Regions from separate parts of the Homo sapiens genome. Here region 2 is linked to region 1. Evidence: fine-mapped expression QTL. A gene starts in region 1. The other region holds a variant in brackets. All regions are shown on one strand. Distances are from middle to middle. Region 1 holds the start of TMEM97 (transmembrane protein 97). Region 2 overlaps SARM1 (sterile alpha and TIR motif containing 1).

Region 1 (2,906 bases):
GGAAGCTGGGCGGAGCGCAGTGCACCCACCTAACCCACCCCAATCCTTCCATTCCCTCCGCCTCCTCCAGGGCTTTGAGCCGCATTTCCTGCTCTTCTCGAGTAGGGGTAACCTCTCCCACTGTCAAAACTAAACTAGCTCAAGTCTTTCTCACCTGCAAAATAAACTCTCGAGTGCATCTCTCTCCAGCTACTGCCCCATGTCTTCTCCCCTTCGTGACCAGCTGTCTACACTTCCTGCCTCCATTTCCCCACTTTCTTACTCCCTGGCTCCTGCCCCCACGACACAACTGTTCCCCACAGGGCCACAGGCGGGCATCACTCAGTGTTGACAGGCTGCCCCTCCCTGTGACATAGCCCCCTGCTAGTACGCTCCTATCTCAGTCCCCTCCTCCCATGACCTGAGGCTGGAGCTCCCCCAGGATCTCTCCCAGGCCCTCTGCTCGCCATCAAAGGCGGATGCCTCACAAGCTTACGACTCCAGACAGGCTCACCCAACTGCCTCCTCCACCCAACGCTGCAGCCCACTCAAGGTCCACGTAGTCCAAGCTGCATTCCTTCCTCGCACTCCCTTGCCCTGTGTCCCCTCTTAGCAAATGGCAGCCTCGGCGATCCTGCCCCGAGACAGGCCTGCGCCCAGCGTGGAGATGAACATCAGTATTTGCTGAACGTGTAAACGAATCCTTGACCTTCCCTCATGCTCCACAGCCGGTGAGGATTCCTGTCCATTTTACTGCCTCCTACGTCCCTCGAGTCCTCCCCTCTGCTTCTTTGTTCACCGCGGCCAGCTGCCTCCCCAGACCCGCAACCCCGGCTGGGCCGGGAACCTGCACCGCGGCGCTCGTGCCCCGCTCTGCGACCCCTGCTCCGTGACGGCCGCACTGCACCGGGGTACCGCGGCCCAGCACAGGCGCTGGTCACTAGTACACGAACTAGCTAGGACTACAGGTGCACACCACCACACCTGGCTAATTTTTTATTTTTTGTAGAGATAATGTCTTACTAAGTTACCCAGGCTGGTCTTCTGGGCTCAAGCCATCCTCCTGCCTCGGGCTCCCAAAGTGCAGACATTACAGGCATGACCCACCGTGCACAGCGTCAGCTTTATTTTTTTAATGCTGACTTACTGCAGAAGGCCCAAGGGCCAGTGCAGTTTTCATACTGCTGTTGTAGTGGCGAACGGAGCCACGAGGGAAGGGAGCGCCGCCGGCAGCTGCCGGGACACCAGGATACCACGCGGCCAGCACCGAAACGCTAGGCTCGCGCTCACAACCGCAATCTACACTGAGTAGCCGCGCGCCGAACGGCGTGACTAAGCCCCGCCCACACGGCGCTCCTGGCGGCCAATGGAAATGGCTTACGAGACGCCTTCTCCACGCGCTATACTTATACGGACCAATGGGTGCGCCCTGTGGGGAGTGCCGCCCCCTGTCCACGAGCCTCCTCTTCTCGCCAGCCAATGGAAGCGGTCTGCCTAGCCCTCGCGGGGGCAAGGCGGCGACCGAGGCGCGTGGGTCTGGGAAGGCGCGCGGATTTGGCCCCTCTTCTCACATCAGCGGGTCCAGGCCCAACCGACAGACTATGGGGGCTCCGGCAACCAGGCGCTGCGTGGAGTGGCTGCTGGGCCTCTACTTCCTCAGCCACATCCCCATCACCCTGTTCATGGACCTGCAGGCGGTGCTGCCGCGCGAGCTCTACCCAGTCGAGGTGAGGGGCGCCCCTCTTATCCCGGCCCGCTGAGGCTCTCCCGGCGCTGCGTCCACAGGGCCTTCACCTCCTCCGCGCTCGCGCACTCTGGGTTCCAGTTGCCTCTCTCGGGTCCTGCCCATGCCTCCCCCGCTCCTAACCCAACTTTAGTTCGGTGTTTTCCTCGGGCTTTGTCTCTATCCCAGCCCCTTCTCCCAAGCGGCGGGGGCGAACGCTTTGTTTCCTTTAAAGTCACTTCTTCCCTGGGTTTAAGGTTTCCCGCGATTCCACCTCTGGCCGGTTGTCAGTGTCTGAGGGAAGTAGTCTGGATGAAGTGGTGTCCAAAGTCACATGTTAGGTTTGCTTTAAGCTTCTGGTTTTTTGTTTGTTTGTTTGGAAGGGCTTTAAAATACCAGTCTGATCCCAAAGAAAAAATCCGAGTAGAAATAGACCTGTCTGAAGGTTTAGCACCTTGGTTGGTGCAGCTGGGGCGTTCACAGATCGTCACTGCTTCGAGATCAGGTTCCAGCAACTTCCAGAGCTCAGGAGTAAATTGCCATCTTTTCAGATTGGCTCTTCAATATTGGGTTCGAGTAACAATGATCTCCTGAGTAAAAATAAAGGTGAAAATCCCGATTTCCTGGTTGTTGGAGAGCATTCTTTCAACCCCAAACTCTGCTTTAATGCTTTGTTTTTTTCTTCAAAGCTATAGTTTTAGTTTCCCGGTTCGTTGAGGTTTTTTTCTCGTATCTGGACCCTGTGACCTTCTTCCATGGAATTCCTGTCCTCAGTTTTGTTTCTCCATCTTATCTATAACTGTAGGCAGGACTGACTTGTCTACCCGAAGATTTTATTTTGCGTCTGTTTTTCCTTAAATGCTTTTTATCTGCCGAGGAGGGGTTCTTTACCTGAGGGTCATGAACTCCCAAAAATGGGTGCAAGTGTGTGTGCCTTTTGTTTCCTGCAAGGAGAATATAGCTTCCATCGACTTTTCAAGGGGCCTAACTCTCCCAAAAAGGCCACGGCTCAAGAATGTTCTACCACTCCCATAAGTCACTCTTTTTTGTTTGCTTCTAGAACCAAACACAACTGGAAGACCTCTGACCTCCTTTTGCATGGGAAAAGCGTAGGTAGCGTGTAGCAAGTTGCAGTCTGGGGACTTGGTTCTTCCAAGAACTGGAGGTGACTTGGGCAGGTCAGGGCTCTATATCCTCCTCAACT
Region 2 (2,906 bases), 73 kb after region 1:
TGCTAGAGTCAGGTTAGAAAGCAGACCACGCTATATAGGGTTAAAATTAAAACCTCCTCCGATAAGACTTTATGGTTTGTAGGGCATGACTCCCTAGGCTCCTTAGGTAGGAATTTGGGCAAGATAAAAAAAAAAAAAATCAGAGTTTAGTCCTCAAAGGACTGGAATAATCAGGGAAGACTTCATGGAGGAAGCAGGTCTTGAGAAGAATCTTAAGAATCTGGGTAAGTGGAATAGAAGGCATCCCAGGCCAGGGTAACAGCATGAGCAAAGGAATAAAGGTAGGGAGGAGAACAGTGCTGAAAGCCCACATACATCTTGGTACTGCTTTCTCCATATCACAGATGAAGAAACTGAGGCTCAGAAAAGTAGAATAATGTTCCCCTGGCTGCACTACTAGTGTAGAAATCAGAAAAGCTAGGCTTCAAATTCCATCTATCTGACTCCAAAGCTCATCACTTTCCCAAGATCCACACTGCATTCTATGGCACAGCTCTGAGGGGGTGTGAGGGGAGGTGATGGGGTAGGGCTGGATTCGGTTGACACCAGAGATGATTGTATCTCTTCACAACTCCACATCCAGTGATGTCATGTTGGTAGCTTGTCATCAGCCATGGTGGGAGTATTTACACCAAGGAAATTGGCAACCACTACAAATCAAAGTTTTGTTAGTTTGGTTGATTGGCTGGTTGGGTTTTCTTCCCCCATGAATAGCTAGTTACTATAAAGTTAGCAGCACACCACTGGCTGGATAAGAACCATGGAAACCAGGTAAAGCAGTGTCTAAAGGCAGGAGAAGACCTGTGCTTAAAGCACTGGAAATCAAGGAGCCCATGAAGGAGAAGATGCCAGGGCGGTGGGTCTTAGGATGAAGGCTCTGACACTGGAATGCAGTCCACATGGAGTGTGGAGTCAAGCCCCAGAGGCCATGTAGGAGGGGCTGAGTACTAGGCCTGGTTTGGGGAGGGGCACTGGGGCAGTTGAGCATCCAGGAAGAACATGGCTGATAACCCAGAGCACGTGGCAGGCAGCCTTTTGAGAGAAAGAAAAGAGTGTCTGTGAGCTCCATGAGACTTCAGACCTTGCCTCATTCATCTGTGTCCCTGGTGCCTAAAACCATGCATGGTACAAAGGAGGCTCTATGCAATTGCACCAAAAAAAAAAAAAAAAAAAAAGAGAGAGAGAGAGAGGCTGAGGCTGTAGAGGAGTTTATAGAACAATTGAATCAATGATTAAGCAGACAAGTGATACTGATGAAGCTGAGATGCCATGCCTGGGAGAGCCATACATATCTAGTAGATTTACCAGGTTAGAGGACTTGACTCC[G/GTT]TTTTTTTTTTTTTTTTTCCAGTAGAGATAGGGTTTCGCTATGTCACCCAGGCTGGTCCCGAACTCCTGAGCTCAAGCCTGGAGTTCAGTGCCTGCCTCGGCTCCCCAAAGTTCTGGGATTAGAGGCATGAGCCACCGTGCCCAGCCAGAGGACTTGACTCTAATTGTTTTCGTTCTCAACCAGCTAGGTGATCCTGAACAAACCATTATCCCTTTCTTTTATTTATTTAATTATTTTTTTTTTTTTGAGGCACAGTCTTGCTCTATCACCAGGTTGGAGTGCAGTGGTGAGATCTTGGTCGGCTCACTGCAACCTCCGCCTCCCGGGTTCAAGTGATTCCCCTGCCTCAGCCTCCTGAGTAGCTGGGACTACAGGCACACGCCACCATATCCAGCTAATTTATATATATATATTTTTAGTAGAGACGGGGTTTCACCATCTTGGCCAAGATGGTCTCGATCTCCTGACCTCGTGATCCGCCCGCCTTGGCCTCCCAAAGTGCTGGGATTACAGACATGAGCCACCACACACGGCCGCCATTATCCCTTTCTTGGCCAGCCTCTGAATCTGTGCGATGAATAATTTGTACTGTCTTTGGTTTTGTATAATTCTGGATGAAACAAATTTCTAAAAATTTCCAAATAAATTGCTGCAGGCTCAGGATTCATTCCAATGCTCAGCAGAAAGGCAGCAGGGCTTGGCTGAAACAGCCTGGACTTGGACTCTCGAGGCTTGAGTCAGAGGACCGGCCCCTCGTGGGCTGGGCGTGTGTGTGGCTTAGGAGGAAATCCCTTCCTCTCTGGGCTTTTTTCTCTCCATCTGTAAAATGGAGCGGCTCCCCAGGAAGCCAGTCAAGGACGAAGTTACGCATGTTCTTTCCCCAGGAAGGCTCCACTTCCCAAGAATGCTTGGCACCCCTTGTCGTCCCAGCAGATGGCAAAGAGGTGAGAGGAGCCTTTGTCTTGGACCGGCCCCAGAGGCTCCGTCATCCCTCTTTGGTTGTTTCTGGTGCTTAATTGCCTCTGGTTTTAAAACTCCTTTCCCTGAAGCCACATTAGTGGGTAATCAATAGGGAAAAACCACAAGTGAACTGCACTCAAAAAAGTAAAATCCCTTTGGTTCCCTCTTGAGAGGAAGAAAAACATTCAATAAGCACTTAATGGAACCCGATTACTAGCAAATAATTCCTCAGAACAACGCTTTGAGGTAGGTTTTATTATCCCCACTTTACAGAAGAGGAAATAATAACACCTATTACGTATTAAGCATACACTGCATGCAAAGCACTGTTCTAATTACTTGCCATGGAATGTTGCGCTTATTCCATGGAACAATCCTGAAGACAGGGACTATCATTAATCCTGCTTTATATATTAGAAAACAGAGGAACGAGTGTGGTAGTGCAGGCCTGTGATCCCAACACTTTGGGATGCTAAGGTGGGAGGATCACTTGAGGCCAGGAGTTTGAGACCAGCCTGGGCAACATGGTGAAACCCCATCTCTACTAAAAAATACAAAAAATTAGCCGGACATGGTGGCACACGCCTGTGGTCCCAGCTACTTGGGAGGCTGAGGTGGG

Evidence for each region. PIP is the estimated chance that this variant, and not a neighbour inherited with it, causes the effect. A credible set is the group of variants that fine-mapping cannot tell apart.
Region 2: its variant is the best candidate, but not a certain one, in a credible set for the expression of TMEM97 in subcutaneous fat (FUSION, PIP 0.77).

Annotation. Positions count from the first base shown.
Region 1 is chr17:28,317,660-28,320,565 of GRCh38, forward strand. It overlaps TMEM97 (transmembrane protein 97), which reads left to right and starts at 1,541. Exons shown (of 3, transcript NM_014573.3): 1 at 1,541-1,706. The coding sequence starts at 1,581. RefSeq lists enhancers at 1-645, 865-1,124, 1,605-1,664.
Region 2 is chr17:28,390,554-28,393,459 of GRCh38, forward strand. All of the region lies in intron 7 of SARM1 (sterile alpha and TIR motif containing 1), which reads left to right. Among named protein-coding and RNA genes, the nearest start is that of SLC46A1, 14 kb to the right of the region's middle. The variant G/GTT (reference allele first, on the strand shown) is at 1,327.